Homo sapiens: one gene and its partner. The protein of the gene in region 2 purifies or fractionates together with the protein of the main gene of each other region. This does not show direct contact. Each region holds a gene or a part of one and is shown on either strand. Other genes may lie near its edges. The genes, in order: CA1 and ARMH1.

Region 1 (3,825 bases), on a different chromosome or scaffold from region 2:
TTAAAGCTGTAACCCCAAATGGAACACACCATCATTTCCTCTTTATTTAAACGTTCAAGTTTGGATACACCAGCAGTATCGTTGTGGCCAAGCCAGGACAATTCAATGAGACTCTACTAAGAGCTCGAATTTAACCACAGCAATGGTCACAGAACAGCATACACCTAGATGAGGGTCTAACCTTCCCTGGCTCTTAACCTGCTCTCACATGGAAGTTTGTGACTTATTTCAGGACATTATTATCTGTATATCCAAAGAAAAATGGAGACATGTACACCAAACTCTCAGCAGAGGGTCTGGGAGATTAAAATGTGAGAAATTTTGCTCTTTATTTTAGGTGTATGAATTATATAATACATGTGTACCCATATATGCAGGTTGACTTTTTAATTTTACTTTCATCAAATGAATTCTATAATATATATAATTTTGCAACCTGCTTTTTTTCTATTTACCCACTTATCATGACAATTTTTAAAAATCAGAAGATTGAATTCCACCTTTTTTACTGTCAGCATAGTATTTCATTTGGGTGAATGCATCAGAATTTATTTAACTGCCTTCTATTGATGAACAATCACAACATATGATTTTTGTTATATTGGTTTCTTTTGCTTTTATTAAAAAATGCTTCAGTGAATATATCTGTACATATATCTTGTGCACTAGTGAAAGTAATTATGTACGATAGATTTTTCCAGGGCAGACTGCTACGTTACAAAGTATATGTATCTTCTATTCTGATAGAACATCAGCAGATTGTATACAAATAAAACTTGCTTTACCTTGTGTTGTAAAGCATGACTAACACCTTTCAATGCTGCAGAAATCTGTTAATTGGGTTTTCCCCTCCATAAAATTGAAGGTAGATTAAAATTAAATGGACTAAGAGCCTAAATTAGTATTATCTTTTTGGAAGGATAGTTGGTAGTATCCAAGAAAACTAAATTAGTGACTCTCTCATCTAAATTGAGAAAAATCAATATAATCCATGCTAGATATTGAGAGACACTTAGCCACAAAGTTTAGCATATGATTAAATTCAGTTCAATAAACCTTCTTGAGATACCTATAAGACAATAGGTTTGAGAGGCAATGCAGCCTGTTGCTTAAGAATGCAAGTACCCAGCTGACTGCCAGGGTTTGAATCAAAGCTCGACCACTTACTAGCTGTACAAATTCAAACAAATCACTCTACGCTCCAGTATTCCTATATAGAGAATCTAGATAATATAGCATTAGTATCTATCTTAATAATTGTTGACAGCATGAAAAGAGTTAACCCATACAGAGCACACTTAGACCAGCACCTTTCATGTTGCATGTGCTGAATAATGTTACTTAACATTTCCGTAGAGACACAAGCAAACATTTTTCAAGCAGGGAAGTATAGGCATAAATTATTGTGATTAAATAAATATAGTAGCAAATGGCAGTATGACTATTCACAAAGAAGCATAGGAATACAGATGTAAGAATAATTAATTACAAGTAGGGACAGAATCTACACTGGCATGGTCAGAGGAAATTGCAATAAGTGATCCCTCTTAATATACTGTCTTAATCATTCTTTTTTCATTCAACAAATATTCACTGGACACCTACAATATGCCAGATACTGTCTTTATTTTTTGTCGTTATTTATTTATTTATTTTTGAGAAAGAGTCTTGCTCTGTTGCCCAGGCTGGAGTCCAGAGGCACGATCTCGGCTTACTGCAACCTCCTCCTCTCAGGTTCAAGTGATTCTCCTGCCCCGGCCTCCTGAGTAGCTGGGATTACAGGCATGTGCCACCACACCCGGCTAATTTTGTATTTTTAGTAGAGATGGAGTTTTACCACGTTGGTCAGGCTGATCTCGAACTCCTGACCTCGTGATCCGCCCGCCTCGGCCTCCCAAAGTGCTGGAATTACAGGCGTGAGATACTGTTTTTAAAAAGTACTTGCTATCAGAACTTGCATTTGATAGGGAAAATAAAAATTTCAGAGGAAGGAAGGCAGGAAAGAAGGGAGGGAGGAAGGAAGGAAGGGAGGGAGGAAGGAAGGGAGGGAGGGAGGAAGGGAGGGAGGAGAATAGGAAGAAGAGAGATTAAATAAGTGATATGGATAGAACTGTTTTGATTTGTGGTGGTTACTTTATATTGGATGATCAGGAAAGAATTATTTAAGGAGTGGCATTTGAGTTCAACCCTAATTCAAGACAAAAGTCTGCCATTTGAAGATCATGGGGAAGGAAATTCCAGAGAAAATTAGAAGCTAATGCAAAGGCTCAAAGTTGTGAACATGTGACGAAGTATAACCTGTAAGATGTGAATGTTGATAGGTGGGGAAAGCAAGAAATGAATGATAGTTGTTGTACTTATTGATTGAGCATTTAAAAACCTTATCCTAAGAAGGTAAAATTAAGCAGGTTTGGCAAGAAGGAAATCTAGAGTTCTATTTTGGCCAGATTAAGTCTGAAACATCTATTAGACATCCATGTAGAGATATCAAGAATATATCAAGAATACATATATACATACTTGGATGTACAAATCTAGAGTTTGCAGAGACGTTAAGCTGGAGATATTTATTTGAGAGATGTTTGGAAAGGGCACGAACGTGCCTGAAAGAATCTGTTCTTGGCCAAGACTCCCAGGAACTCCAGGAACCCTTTCTCATAAATTTACTATAAAGTACCTCATGTGAGAGAAAATTACTTCAATTATTTTCCCAAAAACTAGTTAGTCATATTTCCTGATCTTTTCAAAACAAAGAGAGATACATTTAAAGGAGTAATATTAAATAACAATATCGTAGGAAAGGACATTTTGCTTACTGGTTCCAGGTTTTGTAATCTCTACCTGGCACACAGATAACCCTTCCTACGAGTGAGAATGTAACTCTTCTAATCCACTGGATAAAGGTTCACATAAGTTTTATGTATCTAAGCCAAGATACATCATCATATGGTAACAAGTTAACTTATAACTTATCTTTTTTCATCACACTGGTATAAATAATTAATTAACCATAGTATCATTTTTAGCTTCACGTAGCTCACTGGAATTCTGCAAAGTACTCCAGCCTTGCTGAAGCTGCCTCAAAGGCTGATGGTTTGGCAGTTATTGGTGTTTTGATGAAGGTGAGTTACAGATAATTACACAGCTCTGCTTCCACTGTCTTACCAATTAGACCTCAAAATAGAAGGAAATAAGGCAACATATATTTTAGAATTTCTTATTTTAAAGTTTCCATTTAACCGATGACTACAGGTGAACAAATAGTTCCCTAGTATTTTATTGCTTGGTTTTATCTCTGCTTTTCCCTCTTAAAGAGAGAAATGAGTTTCAGGTGGAGGTGAGATAGAAATGTGTTCACAGGGAAAAAGGAATTTCTATTTTCCAGCTCTTCCAAATTCCCTTTCCTCTAAATTTCCTACATCATAGATTCTGAAATTTATTAATTTAATGTCTCATCAGGAAAGAAATATTATTAAATATTAATAAGGAAACCTGAAATCATAGATTCAGAAATTTATCAATTTAATATCTCATTAGGAAAGAAATAGTAAGAGAATTTTTTCTTACAAAGAATATTCAATTGATTTTTTAAATGGGAGATGTTGCTCAAATCCTCTATAGAAGAATCCCTGAAAAGTTCTATGAAAAAGTTATTATTAAATTGGGTATGCCCGGGTAACCAAGTAACTCTTGAAATTATAGCACTTCTACTTAACCTTTACTGAGCACTTACAATATGCCAAATACTGTAGTAATGAAAACTAATATAACAGACCAAAATAAGAGATTTGTTTTTGTGTCAGTTTTGATAAATTACTAGATTTT
Region 2 (3,825 bases):
GACACCTCGCCATGGCATGTTGGGAGTCAGGTGGGGGAAGGGCTCACACAATGCTGTGTGTAGACCTTCCCTCTACTCATCAGTTTTCAACTCTATGTCTCATTCCTGCCCTTCAAGCCCTGCCTGAGGTCCCTGTGCAAGGAGGCCTACAGAGTCCAACTTCCTTCCTCTTCATGCAGCAAGAAAGTTTAGAGTCATTTCTTTCTTGGCGGTTGAGGGTCTGGAGTGCAGGCAAGTGCTCTGCACACAGAGGTCAGTGAATCCCCCTAGGTTGGGCTCCATACCTCATTTCTGACCTTCAGTGGTAATTTGTGCTTTCAAGCATTAAGCCTCTTAGAGGTCAAACTGGCTGAATTGACTGGTTTCTTGTTGGTAAGCTCCCCTTGTTGGCAGTTGCTTGCAATTTCCTCTGCTTCAAGCCGGTTAGCCTCCCTGCACCTGCCTTCTGCCTTCCAAATATTTGTTGAATTCTTTCATCTCCTGTTGCCTCCTTCCATGAACTTTTGTGACTGAATGCTTTTTTATATTTCTTCAGCGGGGTTATGTCACTAAGGTTTTTCAGAAGTAGGGGGAGATAAAAGACATTAAGTATATTTAATTAAGAGCCTCCAGTCATGTATTATTTATCTCAACCTTTCTTTAATAGTAAGCTTGATGAGGGTAAAAAAAGACCCATTAACTACCATTTTTAAAAATAATTAATAAGATGAAAACAGTGGAAAAAAGACCAAAATGTGTCAATTTCAAGAGTCAGTTGCTGGGATAAATTGTATCTAAGCTTGTTGACCGCTAAGGAAAAAGTGATGTTAGCTGTGTTTCCTGGTGAAGGCAGAAGGAATGAAGGCAGGGAGAAGAAACTGACATTTTTTGAGTGTTGATTAAGAGCTATCCACACACCATACGCACACACACTCACACACTCTCTCTCTCTCTCTGTGGTTGTTTTTGTTTATAGAGATGGGGTCTCTCTGTGTTGCCTAGGCTGATCTCAAACTCCTGGCCTCAAGCTATCTTCCCACCTTGGCCTCCCAAAGTGCTGGAATTACAGGTGTGAGCCACCGCACCCTGCCTAAATTCTTTGTTTTAATCCTCTTAAGATCCTCAGGAGGTCATCATTATCCACAACTTTCAGATGAAGAAACTAAGGTTTAGAAGGGTTTGCTCATTTATTGAAGGTCTCAAATAGGGATGGGAATGGGATTTGAACTTAGATCTGCATATAACTCCAAAGTCCAGGTTTTTCCCCACTAAGCCAAGGGCATGGATCCTGTTCTCCTCTGTGCTCCAAGGTGTCACCAATAATCTCCTGTTGTCAGATTTAGTGGTTTAGCTCACCGTCCCAGCGTGCTTGGTCTCTCTGATGGATTGTGAATGACTCTTTTCCTAACCCCAGAATCCCCTGGTTCTACTCCAGACTCTCTGAATCCTCAGTTGCCATTGCAGGATAGTGCCTTTGCAGGTCGTTTTCCCGTTCTTAGTTCTCTTCTCATGCTTTGTAATCCCTGGGTGACCTCATTCACCCCATCACTTCAAATTACATTTATAGGCGCACGACTCTCAAATCCGTCTCCTCAGTCTGGGCCTCCCACCTGAGCTCCAGATCTCTTTATGTACTTAAGTGACCGGCAGACTCTTCACTGGTATGTGTCACAGGCTCCTCAAGTCAACAGGTCCCAAACTGAACTCATCAACTCACACCTGCCCCTTGCCCTGTGTTGGTCCTATTTCAGTGCTTGGGTCACCACCCTCCTAGTCAGCCAAAAGTTGTCTTTGACTTATTCCTCTCCCTTGCCCTCATCTGAACTGTTGCCAGCTCCTGCCAATTACATGTCCTAAATTTCCCTGAGATCAGTCTGTCTGTCTTCACCTCCACTGCCGCTATTTCAGTTTCACACCCTTGTTCCGCATATGGATTACTGCAACAGCCTCCACTGGTCTTCGGGCTTGCCCCAGCCTAAACTCCACAGTGATGTGAGATTTTTTATTTTTATTTTTATTTTTGAGACAGGGCCTTGCTCTGTCACCCAGGCTGGAGTGCAGTGGCACAATCATAACTTACCGCAGCCTCAATCGCCTGGGCTCGAGTGATCCTCCCACCTCAGCCTCCTGAGTAGCTGGGACTACAGGTGCATGCCACCATGCCCACCTAATTTTTATTTTTATATTTGTTTATTTTTTGTAGAGGTGGGGTCTTGCTTCGTTGCCCAGGCTGGTGTCAAACTCCTGGGCTCAAGCAATCCTCCTGCCTCGGCCTCCCAAAGTACTGGGATTACAGGTGTGAGCCACCAGGCCAGGCTTTGATGTGAGATTTTTAAAAGTACAAATCTGACAGATTTCACTGCTTCAAACTCTTCAGTGGTTCCTTACTACCTGAGGATAAAGCTTCAAACATTTCAGGCCAAAGAATTTCCATCTAAATTCGGCCCCAGGTGAAACCTGACACCCCACCCCACCCCTTGCCTCAACCCATGCTGCTGCTGCTTCTAAATCAGGAAGGGGGCTGCCCACTATCCTACACCTCAAACACCATTCTCTAAATCCCTACTACTGTTCCTGAACCCTTCCTCCTCCTCTGAGGTCAGGCCATCTGTCTTTCCCTCTCTACCTTGCCGCAGTGCCGATCAATGACTTTGACACGTAAGCCTTCCTGTTTACTCAAGAGCCACTAGGCAATTTCAACATCAGTGTGCTCCATCTTTGTAATTTGGGTGGCTAGCAGGGTCTCTGGTAAAACACAGGCACTCAATAAGTGTTATTTAAACTGACATCCAACACACTGTGCTCAGAATGTGCACTTTAATTTCCTTAGCTCTGCACATTAGTTAATTAAACAGATTCCCAGGTGCCAACTCTGAGCCGAGCACTGGGCTTGGGATTGGTTAACGTGACAAACATAGACCTTGCCCTCGGGTGCTTACAGACTGGCAGGGCAGAGAGACAAGCAAAAAGGTGATTTTAATGAACAGTGGAGAGCGCTCTGATGGGATATATCCCAGGTTCTGTTGGCGCACAGAGAAGAGACATGGAATGCAGACTCCAGCGACCTCCCGCTTTCACCTCCAACCAACACAGCTTTCATACCCAAAACCCACACCCCAAATCTGTGACTGGCTAGCACCATCCCACCTATGAAGTCTACAATTCCAAGCTCCTTACCTTCCCACCTCTTCCATCTATTCTCAGAAGGCCTACTTTTGGGTTTAACAAAGAAAGTTATAGGCCATTAGGTAAGAATGTCGTCATACTCCTCTTCTTTCTTCATCTCTATCCACATCCATCCTTCTCCTCTCCTTCTCTAGCCATCTACCAGAGCTCTGCCTCCATCCACCCCGCCTTCTCAGGGCCCTCATTCTACTCATTACTCCTGCCTCCCTTGTATCCTTAACCCCTCTATTTAGGCATTTTTCTTGTTAGCCTTGATTTTTACCTATCTTTATTATTATTTATTTATCAGTGTATTTATTCGAGATAGGGGCTCACTCTTGTCACTCAGGCTGGAGTGCACAGCACCGTCATAGCTCAATGCAGTCTTGAACTCCCGGGCTCAAGCGATCCTCCTGCCTCAGCCTCCTGAGTAGCTAGGACTATGGGTGTGCACCACCATGCCTGGCTAACTTAAAAAAATTTTTTAGAAATGGAGCCTCACGGCCGGGCGCAGTGGCTCACGCTTGTAATCCCAGCACTTTGGGAGGCTGAGGCAGACAGATCACGAGGTCAGGAGATCGAGACCATCCTGGCTAACACGGTGAAACCCCCTCTCTACTAAAAAATACAAAAAGTTAGCCGGGCATGGTGGTGGACGCCTGCAGTCCCAGCTACTCGGGA

Evidence for each region.
Region 1: the proteins of ARMH1 (region 2) and CA1 purify together in Homo sapiens (affinity purification with mass spectrometry; one large-scale study listed by BioGRID and IntAct). This does not show direct contact.

Annotation. Positions count from the first base shown.
Region 1 is NC_000008.11:85,332,822-85,336,646, reverse strand, and holds part of CA1 (carbonic anhydrase 1), read left to right. Parts: intron 1-3,026; coding exon 3,027-3,122; intron 3,123-3,825. UniProt on the Homo sapiens protein: Catalyzes the reversible hydration of carbon dioxide. Can hydrate cyanamide to urea.
Region 2 is NC_000001.11:44,681,116-44,684,940, reverse strand, and holds part of ARMH1 (armadillo-like helical domain containing protein 1), read right to left. Parts: intron 549-3,825; exon of another isoform or gene 290-548; coding exon of another isoform or gene 285-289; intron 1-284.